Homo sapiens: one gene and its partners. The protein of the gene in region 4 interacts with the protein of the main gene of each other region in a biochemical or structural test. Each region holds a gene or a part of one and is shown on either strand. Other genes may lie near its edges.

Region 1 (3,240 bases), on a different chromosome or scaffold from region 4:
CCTTTGGGAAATTATATGTCTACAAGATAAGAAATACATCCGGGATGCCTCCTGTTGGGCTGTTGGTCCCCTAGTGGATCTTCATGAAGGCAGGTAGAAACAATGCAGCCAGTTGTCTCTGCCGATTTGACATTTGGTAGCTGGGTCCTTCCTGCTGTCCCCACCTCCCGAGTAATTAGAGCAGCCACTGTGGTAGTGGTGTAAGTGAATGCACTCTTTGTGGCATCCTGACTGGCTTGGCAGAGTGTTGGAGTTCTCTGCTGCAAGATGATGCAGCATAAGCACTTCCGGGCAACTATAATCAGATTGGAACCCGCCGACCCTTCACCCGGAAGGCCGTACCCCAGGCCCAGACAGGAAGCAGCAGGGACCTCAGCTTGGCTGGCTCTGCTAACAGCAGCAGAATTAATCTCCCCAGGGCCTGCAGGACATGATTCATAATTACCTTGGGAACCTCACAGTACAAGACAGACAATAGTTGCCTGTGTCTTAGTCTGTTTTTTTATGGCTGTAACTGAATACCTGAGACTGGGTAATTTATGAAGAAAAATGGTTTATTTCTTACAGTTCTAGAGGCTGGGAAGGCCAAGGGCATGGTGCCCGCATCTGCTGGGCTTCTGGTGAGGGCCTCCTGCTGCATCATAACATGGCGGAAGGCATCACAGGGCAAGAGGGGCACATGAGAGAGAACCAAGCTGCCTTTTTATAACACTCTTGTGATAACTAGCCCACTCCTGTGGTAACCCATTAATCCAGGAATGGGCTAATCCATTCATGAGGACAGAGCCTTCATGACCCAATTACCTCTTAACGGCCCCAACTCTTAATACTGTTACATTGGGGATTAAGTTTCTGTATGAATTTCAAACCATAGCATTCCAGCCCTGGACCCCCCAAACTCATGTCCTTCTCATATACACATATATTAATTTGGTCCCCATATCCCCAAAGACTTAACACGTTGCAGTCCTAGCTCAAAAGTTCAAAGTCCAGAATTTCATCTGAATCAGACAAGACTCACAGCATGATTCATCTCAAGCTTAATTTCCTTCCAGCTGTGAGCCTGTGAAACTAAACAAGTTATCTACTTTCAAAAAATAGGGGCTGTCCCTGGCCCCTAAAAACATCAGCTGGTGGCCAGGCACAGTGGCTCATGCCTGAAATCCCAGCACTCTGGGAGGCTGAGGCAGGATGAATACTTGAGGCCAGAAGTTCAATACCAGCCTGGGCAACAATGCAAGACCCCATCTCTACATAAAATTTTAAAATTAGCCAGGCATGGTGGTGCATGCCTGTAATCCCAACTACTTGGGAGGCTGAGGCCAGAGGATCATTTGAGCCCAGGAGGTCAAGGCTGCAGTGAGCTATGATTGCGTAACTGCACGCCAGCCTGGCCAAGAGAGTGAGACCCTGTCTCTAAAGAAAAAAGCAAAAACAACAAGAGTCAGACGAAATGATATAGTCTGGATATTTGTCCCTGCCCAAATCTCATGTTAAATTGTAATCCCCAGTGTTGGAGGTAGGGCCTGGTGGGAGGTGTTTGGGTCGTGGGGACAGATCCCTCACAGCTTGGTGCTGTCCTCATGATAGTGAATGAGTTCTCTCGAGATCTGGTTGTTGTAAAGTGTGGGAGCGCCACTCCACCCTCTCTCTTGCTCCTGCTTCCTCCATGTGACATGCCTGCTCCCGCTTTGCTTTCCACCATGACGAAAAGCCCCCTGAGGCCTCCCCAGAAGCCAAGCTGAGGCCGGCGTCATGCTTGTACAGCCTGCAGAACCGCGAGCCAGTTAAACCTCTTTTCTTGGCTGGGCACGGTGGCTCGCACCTGTAATCCCAGCACTTTGGGAGGCTGAGGAGGGTGGATCATCTGAGATCAGGAGTTCGAGACCAGCCTGGCCAACATGGCAAAACCCCGGGTCTACTAAAAATACAAAAATTAGCTGGGTGTGGTGGTGGGTGCCTATAATCCCAGCTACTCTTTTGGGAGGCTTAGGTAGGAGAATCGCTTGAACCCAGGAGGCGGAGGTTGCAGTGAGCCGAAATTGGGCCACTGCACTCCAGCCTCGGAGACAGAGTGAGACTCCATCTCAAAAAAAAAAAACAAAAAAACAAAAAAAAACTTATTTTCTTTATAAATTACCCAACCTCAGGTATTTCTTTATAGCAATGAAAGAATGGCCTCATATACCAAGCATTCACCCATTGTTGACCTGGCCCTCTGTCCCCTCTCTCCCCAGGTGAAGAGTCACAGTTTGAGATGGACATTTAAAGCACCAGCCATCGTGTGGAGCACTACCAAGGGGCCCCTCAGGGCCTTCCTGGGAGGAGTCCCACCAGCCAGGCCTTATGAAAGTGATCATACTGGGCAGGCGTTGGCGTGGGGTCGGACACCCCAGCCCTTTCTCCCTCACTCAGGGCACCTGCCCCCTCCTCTTCGTGAACACCAGCAGATACCTCCTTGTGCCTCCACTGATGCAGGAGCTGCCACCCCAAGGGGAGTGACCCCTGCCAGCACACCCTGCAGCCAAGGGCCAGGAAGTGGACAAGAACGAACCCTTCCTTCCGAATGATCAGCAGTTCCAGCCCCTCGCTGCTGGGGGCGCAACCACCCCTTCCTTAGGTTGATGTGCTTGGGAAAGCTCCCTCCCCCTCCTTCCCCAAGAGAGGAAATAAAAGCCACCTTCGCCCTAGGGCCAAGAGTTGGGCCCCGTCTGAGCTTTTTTCAACTCTGTTTGGTAACTAACACCAGCTGCTATCTGTACAGTGCTGCTGCTTTTTTTTTTTTTTTTTTTTTGAGACGGAGTTTCACTCTTGTGGCCCAGGCTGGAGTGCAATGGCGCAATCTCAGCTGATTGCAACCTCCACCTCCTGGGTTCAAGCAATTCTCCTGCCTCAGCCTCCCGAGTAGCTGGGATTACAGGTGCCCGCCACCATGCCCAGCTAGTATTTTTTTGTATTTTTGTAGAGACAGGGTTTCACCATGTTGGCCAGGCTGGTCTCGAACTCTTGACCTCAGGTGATCCACCCGCCTTGGCCTCCCAAAGTGCTGGGATTACAGGTGTAAGCCACCGTGCCCAGCCTTGTACAGTGCTTCTAAAGCGTGGGCCTGTCCTTATTTGATTCTGACTCTGATCCTGTGGGTAAGTAGAACAACTGTTATCCTCACTTTACAGCTGAGAAGACTGGCACAAGAACAGGTAAAATCGTGCAGCTGCTGAATGGCACATGGGACTGGATTTG
Region 2 (2,480 bases), on a different chromosome or scaffold from region 4:
GACCTGTTCCAGTAGAAGCTCAGGGGAGCACACTGGACATTATTCCAACAACCCTTTCCCCACAGCTATGCAGCCAAATCTGCCAGCTCAGTTAATTAATTAAGCAATTCAGAGATGAGGGTCTGCCCAGGCTGGAGTGCAGTAGCTGCGACCTCAAGCTCCTGGGCTCTAAGTGATCCTCTTCAGTCTACCCAGAAGCTGGGACTGCAGGCATGTGCCACCACACCCAGCTAATTTTTTTTTTTTTCAGTAGGGACCAGGCCAACCTAGTCTTGAACTCCTGGCCTCCAGCCTTCCGAAGTGCTGTAATTACAGGCATGAATCACTGCGCCCAGCCAACCCGCCCAGTCTTGTTAGACATGGGGTCTGTAGTTTCTAGTAGGTTCTTGAGTCTAGGGTTCCTACCTCATGTTTTATAGTTAATTTAGGGGAGGGACTGTGTCTGTTTATCTGGGGATGTAGGGGTGGGCAGGGGGATAGAGGGGACTTCAATTAATGAAACCAGAAGCAAAACTCAGTTGAGGACACCGGTCATGAGAGTGGCCTGATTATGGCCAATCTTACATAATGTGTGAGATCTTGATATTACCCCATCCTTGAGAGTCCTCTATAAAGCTACAGGGACTTGGGAGCACCTTTAATTACAGACAACCCATGTTCCTGTGGATTATGATTTATTAGATTGCACATGCCTAAATAAAGACATCCTCTGCAGTCTTTTGACAATTCTATAAGCATCTTCTGACTCCGCAATTAGACAGCTAAGAGATCTGTGTTACTTCCCTCACATATATAAATAATTTTAAATAAAAATCATGGCGTGAATAATTTCTTTCCTCTACCGATTTGAAGCTATCCATTTGGAAGACCACTCTGAAGAGATGAAATAAGTCTTCTGCCAAAGATTACTTATTAATTTACAAGGAAAAGGGGAAGTTTTGTTCCTCTCCGTGAATTTGATTGAAAATCGAGGGCTTTCTCGAATAGTTTTGGCATCCAGGGTCATTTTTCATTAAAAAGAGAAAAGTCATGTCAAATATGAATTTCCGCAGATTATTCAGCACTAGACCCTGGGAGATTCTGTAAAGAGGGGTTTTGTTATACTCAACTTTTCCGGGTAAAACAAACACAAATACTCCTCCTCCAAGGGGCGGGGGCGGTGCCTAGGTGATGCACCAATCACAGCGCGCCCTACCCTATATAAGGCCCCGAGGCCGCCCGGGTGTTTCATGCTTTTCGCTGGTTATTACATCTTGCGTTTCTCTGTTGTTATGTCTGAAACCGTGCCTGCAGCTTCTGCCAGTGCTGGTGTAGCCGCTATGGAGAAACTTCCAACCAAGAAGCGAGGGAGGAAGCCGGCTGGCTTGATAAGTGCAAGTCGCAAAGTGCCGAACCTCTCTGTGTCCAAGTTGATCACCGAGGCCCTTTCAGTGTCACAGGAACGAGTAGGTATGTCTTTGGTTGCGCTCAAGAAGGCATTGGCCGCTGCTGGCTACGACGTAGAGAAGAATAACAGCCGCATCAAACTGTCCCTCAAGAGCTTAGTGAACAAGGGAATCCTGGTGCAAACCAGGGGTACTGGTGCTTCCGGTTCCTTTAAGCTTAGTAAGAAGGTGATTCCTAAATCTACCAGAAGCAAGGCTAAAAAGTCAGTTTCTGCCAAGACCAAGAAGCTGGTTTTATCCAGGGACTCCAAGTCACCAAAGACTGCTAAAACCAATAAGAGAGCCAAGAAGCCGAGAGCGACAACTCCTAAAACTGTTAGGAGCGGGAGAAAGGCTAAAGGAGCCAAGGGTAAGCAACAGCAGAAGAGCCCAGTGAAGGCAAGGGCTTCGAAGTCAAAATTGACCCAACATCATGAAGTTAATGTTAGAAAGGCCACATCTAAGAAGTAAAGAGCTTTCCGGGAGGCCAATTTGGAAAGAACCCAAAGGCTCTTTTAAGAGCCACCCACATTATTTTAAGATGGCGTAACACTGGAAACAAGTTTCTGTGACAGTTATCTATAGGTTTAAGTTGTGATGCAGCTGAGTTGAAAAGGCTTGAGATTGGAGAATTAATTCAGGCCAGGCTTCAAGACCATCCTGGGCAACATAGCCAGACTACCATCTATACCAGGGGTCCTCATTTCCCCGGCCACCGACCGGTAACCGGTCCCTGTCCATGGCACGTTATGAATTGAGCCGCACAGCTGAGGGGTGAGCGAACATTAACCAACTGAGCTCCACCGCCTGTCAGGTTAGCTGCAGCATTAGATAGATTCTCATAAGCTCAAACTGTATTGTGAATGGCACATGCAAGGGATCTAGGTTTCAGGCTCCTTGTGACAATCTAATGCCTGATGATCTGAGGTTGGAGCAGTTTTAGTCCGGAAATCATTGCTCCCAGCCCCTGCACCCCCTGGTCCGTGGTATAATTGTCTTACACAAAACGGTCTCTTGTGTCAAAAAGGTTGGAGACTACTGGTTTTACAAAAAAGT
Region 3 (3,574 bases), on a different chromosome or scaffold from region 4:
AAATGTTAATTTAATATGGTAAAATGGTTTAAATCATGCTTATATGCATTAAAAAATCTCCAAAATGATTAACAAGACATGAATGTAGCAGTTGCCTTTGTGGGGAAAGGGACTGAGCAGGTGGTATACAGGGAGATATTTTACACTTTTCGATTTTTGGAACTATGCGTATGTGTTAGATATTTAAAAACTAAATAATCTTAGATAAAATATATAGTCATATTTATAAAAATAGTTATTAAAGTGCCAGTTTGAACTCAAAAATAAGATTTATCATGTTTGGGCAAAATACTAAATGTGGTTTTACTCTCCATGCCATTCCATTATATAATCTTATAAATGTCTTCTTATTCTGTTAAGGAAAATATCTTCCTACATAAGTATATGTATATTCTCCCCTGTTGATATTTTTATGGAACTTTATTATTATATCTTTTTAATACTCATTAAAATTATTTTCAATTTATAAGTTTTTTTACTACTTACAGTAGCAGTGAAGATTTTAAAGATTTTTTTTACAGAGAGAATTCTTAATACTAAAAAAGTGAATAAAGCCTATTTCACAATTGTCAGTGATACTTTTTTACCACTTAAATTCAAAAACTACTGTGATGGTACCTGTTATAGGTAAGTCAGGTACTCTCAAAGTGTGAGACATTAAATTCCTTTAAGAAGAATCTTGTTTCTTCGGAATTTTTCAGAGTTTCATAGATATTCTTTAGCGACGTACGTGTCACATAGTGTATTCCGCACTGTTGAACAGTCACATTCGACTCACATGCTCACTTTCTTCCCTCTCATCTCTGCAGAATGAATTAAAAGATTTAGTTGGACTTTTTCAGCTTCCCGTTACTAACTTCTGAGTACTTTATGCATACTTCCTATTTTGTCATACAGAATATCGAAAGACTCAAGATTTAATAAAGTTCATAATTTTTAACTGCAAATTCACAGCAATGAAAAATACAATGACTGCTAATACAGTTTGGTGCCACTGCTTTGAATCATGCCAAAGCACCAGCAGCTTTACCCACCATTGTTCTAGCACCATCAGCATAGAGACCAGCACAGTGGAAAAGGCAGTTAACGTCTTTGTATTATTATGAAGGTAATTTTGGCCTCATGTACCTAGACCCCATGGCAGGGTCTCAGGGACCCTCTGGGGTTCATCAACCACATGCTGAGAATACTGATTTGTACCAACCTCTTAATTTCATAGCTGAGAAATATGGGTGTTTGAAAGGAAAAGTAATGTAAACTAAGGCCAGAAGAGAAGAGGCATTAGGGGCAGAGCTAAGATTTAGGTCACTGAGCTCTTCATTCTCTGAATAGTACCAGCTCAGCCTCTTTAAATAAAGTATGGTAAGCCAAGCAAGAATTCACATGTTTCTTAAGGAAATATAACACATTACATTCACAGACTCACTGGACCTGTTAGAAGGATCTGTGGCAGATCATTTTAAGCAGAGAACTAAGCAACTCTCATAAGACCTTGAAAAGACAGGCTTGTTTCCATTTTTTCCTCCTTTTAACAAGTTTATATTTCCAAAGCCTACTACTGACAAAAATCACTGAGCAAAAAGCGCGACAGCACTCATAGTTCTGAAGTATGGACCTCAGTGTGGAGAGTTTGTTCGTTTTAGTCATTCCCATTAAAATGATTTCTAGGGTTAATTGAGTATTTAAAGGCAGAATATCAGAAAGAACCAAGAAAGGGCTTTATGCTGCATTTCCCACTGTTGGAGTCAGTTAGTAGACTCAGAACTCAGAAATATTATTGCCTGAGGAGAAAAATCAAAGCTAGATCTGAATTTAAGGTATAAGAAATTGTTAGTTAATATAATCAGAGTAAGATCTTGGTCATTATTTTCTGGAGTAGGCATAAACAAGGAAAGAAAGAAAAGTCTAACAAGAAAGTGAAACATAAAAGAGAAAATAGTTAATGGAAGGAATTAGAGGGGTGCATTGTCTTTACAGTGTCCCTAGAGTAACGTGTGGTGCCAAGTGCCTTCTGACCTTAGGGGCCAGGAGACTGACTGGGCCCTGCAGCCGGTGTTCAGGGGCCCTTTCTCTCAGATTTCACAGTTTCACAGGCTTCGAACGCGGTGCTACAAGGCCTAACAGTTTTGGGTTTTGGTTTTTTGTTTGGTTTGGTTTGGTTTGGTTTTCAATTTAGTTGATTTACTGTAGTTTTAGATGATAACATTTAATTAGTATCTATTAAGTTAAGAGGAAAATATTAAAGAATATCTACATTTTCTAGTGGGTATTTCTACAACCATTGTACATGAGCATGCATGTGCAGGTATGTTTGTATCTCATAGGATTCAGCCTCCCTGTCATAATCTTCCAATTACTAGTTTCATCTCTTGACCATCTGCTGTGTCAGAAACTCCTTTGATGACTGGGGAGAGATAACTAAGGCTCTCCTCTCAAGGAGGCTACATCTGGAGAAGGCAGACCACAAATAAACAAACCCTCTGGGCAGAGGAAACAGTGAGCGCAAAGGCTCCAAGTCAAGATCACAGTGGAGAAGGACAGCAGTGAACTCAGATGGACTTGGAAGGGCAGGTAGAGGCTGAGACAGGTAGGACCTTCAGGCCAGGTTGAGTCTGAGATTTATTCTAGGAATTTTGGGAAGCTGTTGGAGGATTTTAAGCAGGAGAGAGGTATAATCTGATTTATGTTTTTGTACGATTTCTCAAACTACTGTATGGAAAAGAATCTAGGTGGCAAGTATGAAAACAGGGAGACCAGTTTGGAGGCTAAGGTGATAGAACCCAAGTAAGACATAATGGTAACCAGAACCAAAATGGGAAAAGTAGAAGGATTGAGGATGTGTTTGGAGGTACAGCTGACAGTGTTTACACAGGGCTAATGTGGGCATGGAGGAAACTGAAGAATCAGGTTATTCTTGGGTTTTGACTTTTAGCTTGAGCAAATTGGATGTCAGTCAGTCATTGATATAGGGAAGCCCCAGGGTGAAGGGGGATCCAAGTTCTGTTTGGCATATATTACATTTGAGATATTTATCAAACATACAAGTGGAGATTGGGTGTGCCGGTCTGAAGCTCAGGGGAGAGATGAAGACTTTGAGCTGTTAGGTGGGATTTGGTGATACTATTTAGGGAGAGAACAGAAAGAAAAGGGAAGGGGGGACTATTTACCAACTGGCCTGAAAGTTTCATTATTTTAGTACCAGGTAGAGATGGACCGGCATATGCTGGCTCAGCATAAGCCCTGGATTTAGCAATATATTGATTTTTGGAATCTTAGCATGCGTGGTTTCAGTAGAGTTGTGGGGAAGGAAGCTCAATTGGAGTGGGTTGAGGAAGAAGGAAGCTAAAGATATGGGTGAGGAAGTGGAGGAGATAACAGGTTTTCCAAGAAGTCTTGCTGTTAAGTGAATCAGAGAAACAGGGCTGGAGCCTGGGGCTTGCTTGCAGGTGAAGGAAAGCGTTTTTAAAGGTGGGAGACTACGCCAGAGCAGGGCTACTCAAACTGCACTCCCTCTGCCCAGCAGTGAAATGTTTGTTAAAATACAGAATGAGATAAGCATACAAATTGAGAGGAA
Region 4 (3,574 bases):
ATGGCGTGAACCTGGGAGGCGGAGCTTGCAGTGAGCCAAGATCGCACCACTGCATTCCAGCCTGGGCAACAGAGCGAGATTCCGTCTCAAAAAAAAAAAAAAAAAAAAAAAAAGTAATGATATTAAATGAAGGTAAGGAACCAGTAAAGTTTGAAATTGTAATACATTGCTGGTAGTAACTTATCTCAAAAGCCATTTGAATGTGTATTTAGAAAGTCTTTAAAAAGTTCATGCATTCCTACCTAGTAATTCTTTTTCTAGGACTTTACCCTAGATGATAAAGTAAGTATAACTGCATTTAAAGATTTATGTGCAAAGAACTTTAAAGAAGCTTTATTTTTAATACTGAAAATTAGAAACAAACCTAGCTATGGTTAAATAAAATATGATTTTCACATATGCTAGACTGTTGTACAATAATTTAAAATGTTTTCAAATTATTTTTAGTGACATGGGAAAATGCTACACACACATCATGAAGCAAGTATATAAAAATATTAGCAGTGGTTATCTCTGAGTGATATATTTGAGAGATGGTTTGTATTATTAAGTTCCGGGATACATGTACAGAATGTGCAGGTTTGTCATACAGGTAAACGTGTACCATAGTGGTTTGCTGCACCTATCAACCCATCACCTACGTATTAAGTCCTGCATGCATATAGGCTTGTATATTTTAAAAATGTTTTCCTGTATTTTCCAGATGACCTACTGTGAACAAGTTACTTTTAGAATTGGAGAGTAGGGGTAGGAGTGAAGAAGACAAATCCTGAAAAAAAAAGTTTGATCTTTTTTCAGCATGTATCATTTTTACCGTGCATAAATCAATTCTAGTCTATTCTTCTTACTTGAGGTTAGGTAACTATGATTGGTGATTTACAGCAGTGGGTTTAATGGGTATAATTTGGTAAATCCCATTACGATTCAGATCTAAAGTTCAGGCTCCGCAATCAAACAGATCTGGATTTCAATCCCATCTCTAACACTTACTGGCTATGTGATCTTGGACAAGCTATTTAATGTTTCTAAATCTCAGTTAACAAACAAAATGGGCAGTTGTAACAGTTGTAAGGGTTAGACAGACAATGCACATAAAGTACATAGCACAATGTCTGGCATGTTGCACACACTCAAATATCAATCACTATTAATCACTATAATAATTAGAATACATTTCCTACTTTGTCCCTCCTACTTTTCCTGATGATGTCCAACAATTTTCCAGCACACAGGATCAATGCCTTCTAAGCATCCTTACAGATAACATGACTCTAGTTGCTCTATAGATGCTACTTTATATATAAGGGCCTATTACTCTATAGATAGTTGTTTTTAAGTATCTCTACAATTGATCTCTCATGAATTCTGGAAGTGGAAAACATGATAATGAAGGACATGATAGTGAAATTTCACGTAACTTTGTTGTGACTTAAAATAATGACTGCGGCCAGGCGTGGTCACGCCTGTAATCCCAGCTCTTTGGGAGGCTGAGGCAGGTGGATCACAAGGTCAGGAGATCGAGACTATCCTGGCTAACACGGTGAAACCCCGTCTCTACTAAAAATACAGAAAAAAATTAGCCAGGCATGGTGGCACACGCCTGTAGGTCCAGCTACTCGGGAGGCTGAGGCAGGAGAATCGCTTGAACCTGGGAGGCAGAGGTTGCAGTGAGCCGAGATCATGCCACTGCACTCCAGCTTGGGCAAAAGAGCGAGACTCTGTCTCAAAAAAAATAAATAAATAAAAATGACTGCTATTTAATCTCCAGGCATATGAGTATATGTAATCATAGAATTATGGAGCCAAAAGTACTTTCAATTTCTCTAATCTAAACACTTTATTTTAATTTCATATATGTGCAAACATCACTAGTTCATGGCATACTCTAGAGTGAACCAGGTTCTTTACTCCTTGTCTTTTTTCTTTCCACTACACCGCACTGCCAGATTAAGACTTACTTTGCCATTACTTTTATTTCTTGATCAAACTGCTGTTTCAGTTCTTCAGTAGTAATGTCAACCATCTGAAAAAATAAAATATACAATGTAATACTACACAATTCTAAGGTTCCTAATGCTCAGAGGGATCAAGAGATCAGCTGGCTCATCTCCCTTTCTTTAAAACAATAGTGTATTATTCTCCCAATTCTACAGAATAACTGAGATCTAGAAATACTAGTGATTTGCTCAAGGCCCATGGCTGGTTAGTGGAATGAAAAATATATATAAATTTCACTGAGTTGTGGAAACAAAATGAAATAACACGAAATTTCACTACACAAAAAAATTTGAAAAAAATTCTAGGAAACAGAAAACATAAGCAATTTAGGTGCAAAATGGAAAAAAAAACCCTACAAAAGCCCTGCAACATATATGACAAAGAGTGACTATCTTTATCACATACATATGCATTCTATTGATATTTTTAGGCTCTAACAAAAGATTTAGAATATAACAAGTAAGTAAAAGGTAAACACCTCAGTAGAAATGGCAACAAAGGACACAGATAAAAAAAATTTTAATGTTTTTTCTTAATGTATACTTCCTAAATTTTATTTTTAAATGGGAAAAGTAATGCAAACAAGGTTTTTTAAAAATAGTTTTCCTGGTATCTTACCATTTTAATCTTGATTACACATGAAGCACTATGTGGAGCAGGGCTTCTCAACTTTAGTTTGTGAATCTCCCAAAATTGTATGTATGATCTTGTGTACATGGACATAACCACATTTTTCTAGGGGTAGGGTCCATAGTGTTCAACAGATTTTAAAATTTTAAGAACTACTATTTAGAATGATGTTTATTTAAAGAAAATACATACTGAAATAATGTATTTCCTAAAGATTAACTTTAAAACCTATTATAGGGCACACTATGAAGCAACTCTTTCTTTTTATTCCTGAAAATATAACTTACTGCTGCAAGCTTCTTCACTGCCACAGTTGTGTTATTTACGTAGCCTTTATATACAACTCCAAATCCTCCCTCTCCCATTTTATTACCACCAACAGAAATGGGTCGTTCATCAAAGTTATTTGTGACATTCTTCAATTCATAAAATGAAAAACTGTGAAAACCTATGTCAAAATAAGAAAAACATGCTTAAATTTTAAAAATTCGTTTTAATAATTATAATATTTTCTCATTTGAAGATTTCACATATATGCAAATATTTATGATTTTGAATTAGACAAGATGAGAGAAGATAAAACCATTTCTAAAATACAAATTATAAGTTTTTCTTGAGAACTCTGTTTGGTGATCCTACCCTCTGAACACTGTAGTCACCCACCCAAAATTCTAGTCACACATTTGAGTGGGTCTAGTCTACCTACCCAAAACTCTAGTCACATATTTTATTTTAAAAAGTGACCTTTCCAAGTTATGTAAATATTTACTTATTTTTTTTCATAGCTTCTCTGGTTGTTTGCATGTCCTATTGCCTCTAATCACTGATTAATACAATGAAGATGGTTCTTAATATATCAGGAGGAAACAACTCACAAAAGAGCTATTGCCAGTGTGCCTGTGATTGCTGCACAAACAAAAGAGCAAGAGCTTTCTTTTAAAGCACT

Evidence for each region.
Region 1: of the proteins of IRAK4 (region 4) and EIF4EBP1, one has a biochemical effect on the other in vitro, tested with the Homo sapiens proteins (one large-scale study listed by BioGRID).
Region 2: of the proteins of IRAK4 (region 4) and H1-6, one has a biochemical effect on the other in vitro, tested with the Homo sapiens proteins (one large-scale study listed by BioGRID).
Region 3: of the proteins of IRAK4 (region 4) and PELI2, one has a biochemical effect on the other in vitro, tested with the Homo sapiens proteins (one study listed by BioGRID and IntAct).

The regions. Positions count from the first base shown.
Region 1 is NC_000008.11:38,057,667-38,060,906, forward strand, and holds the end of EIF4EBP1 (eukaryotic translation initiation factor 4E-binding protein 1), read left to right. Parts: intron 1-2,237; coding exon 2,238-2,269; 3' UTR 2,270-2,699; downstream 2,700-3,240. UniProt on the Homo sapiens protein: Repressor of translation initiation that regulates EIF4E activity by preventing its assembly into the eIF4F complex: hypophosphorylated form competes with EIF4G1/EIF4G3 and strongly binds to EIF4E, leading to repress translation.
Region 2 is NC_000006.12:26,106,885-26,109,364, reverse strand, and holds H1-6 (histone H1t), read left to right. Parts: upstream 1-1,229; 5' UTR 1,230-1,271; coding exon 1,272-1,895; 3' UTR 1,896-1,953; downstream 1,954-2,480.
Region 3 is NC_000014.9:56,282,399-56,285,972, forward strand, and holds part of PELI2 (E3 ubiquitin-protein ligase pellino homolog 2), read left to right. Parts: intron 1-3,574. UniProt on the Homo sapiens protein: E3 ubiquitin ligase catalyzing the covalent attachment of ubiquitin moieties onto substrate proteins. Involved in the TLR and IL-1 signaling pathways via interaction with the complex containing IRAK kinases and TRAF6.
Region 4 is NC_000012.12:43,772,414-43,775,987, reverse strand, and holds part of IRAK4 (interleukin-1 receptor-associated kinase 4), read right to left. Parts: intron 3,077-3,574; coding exon 2,916-3,076; intron 2,024-2,915; coding exon 1,959-2,023; intron 1-1,958.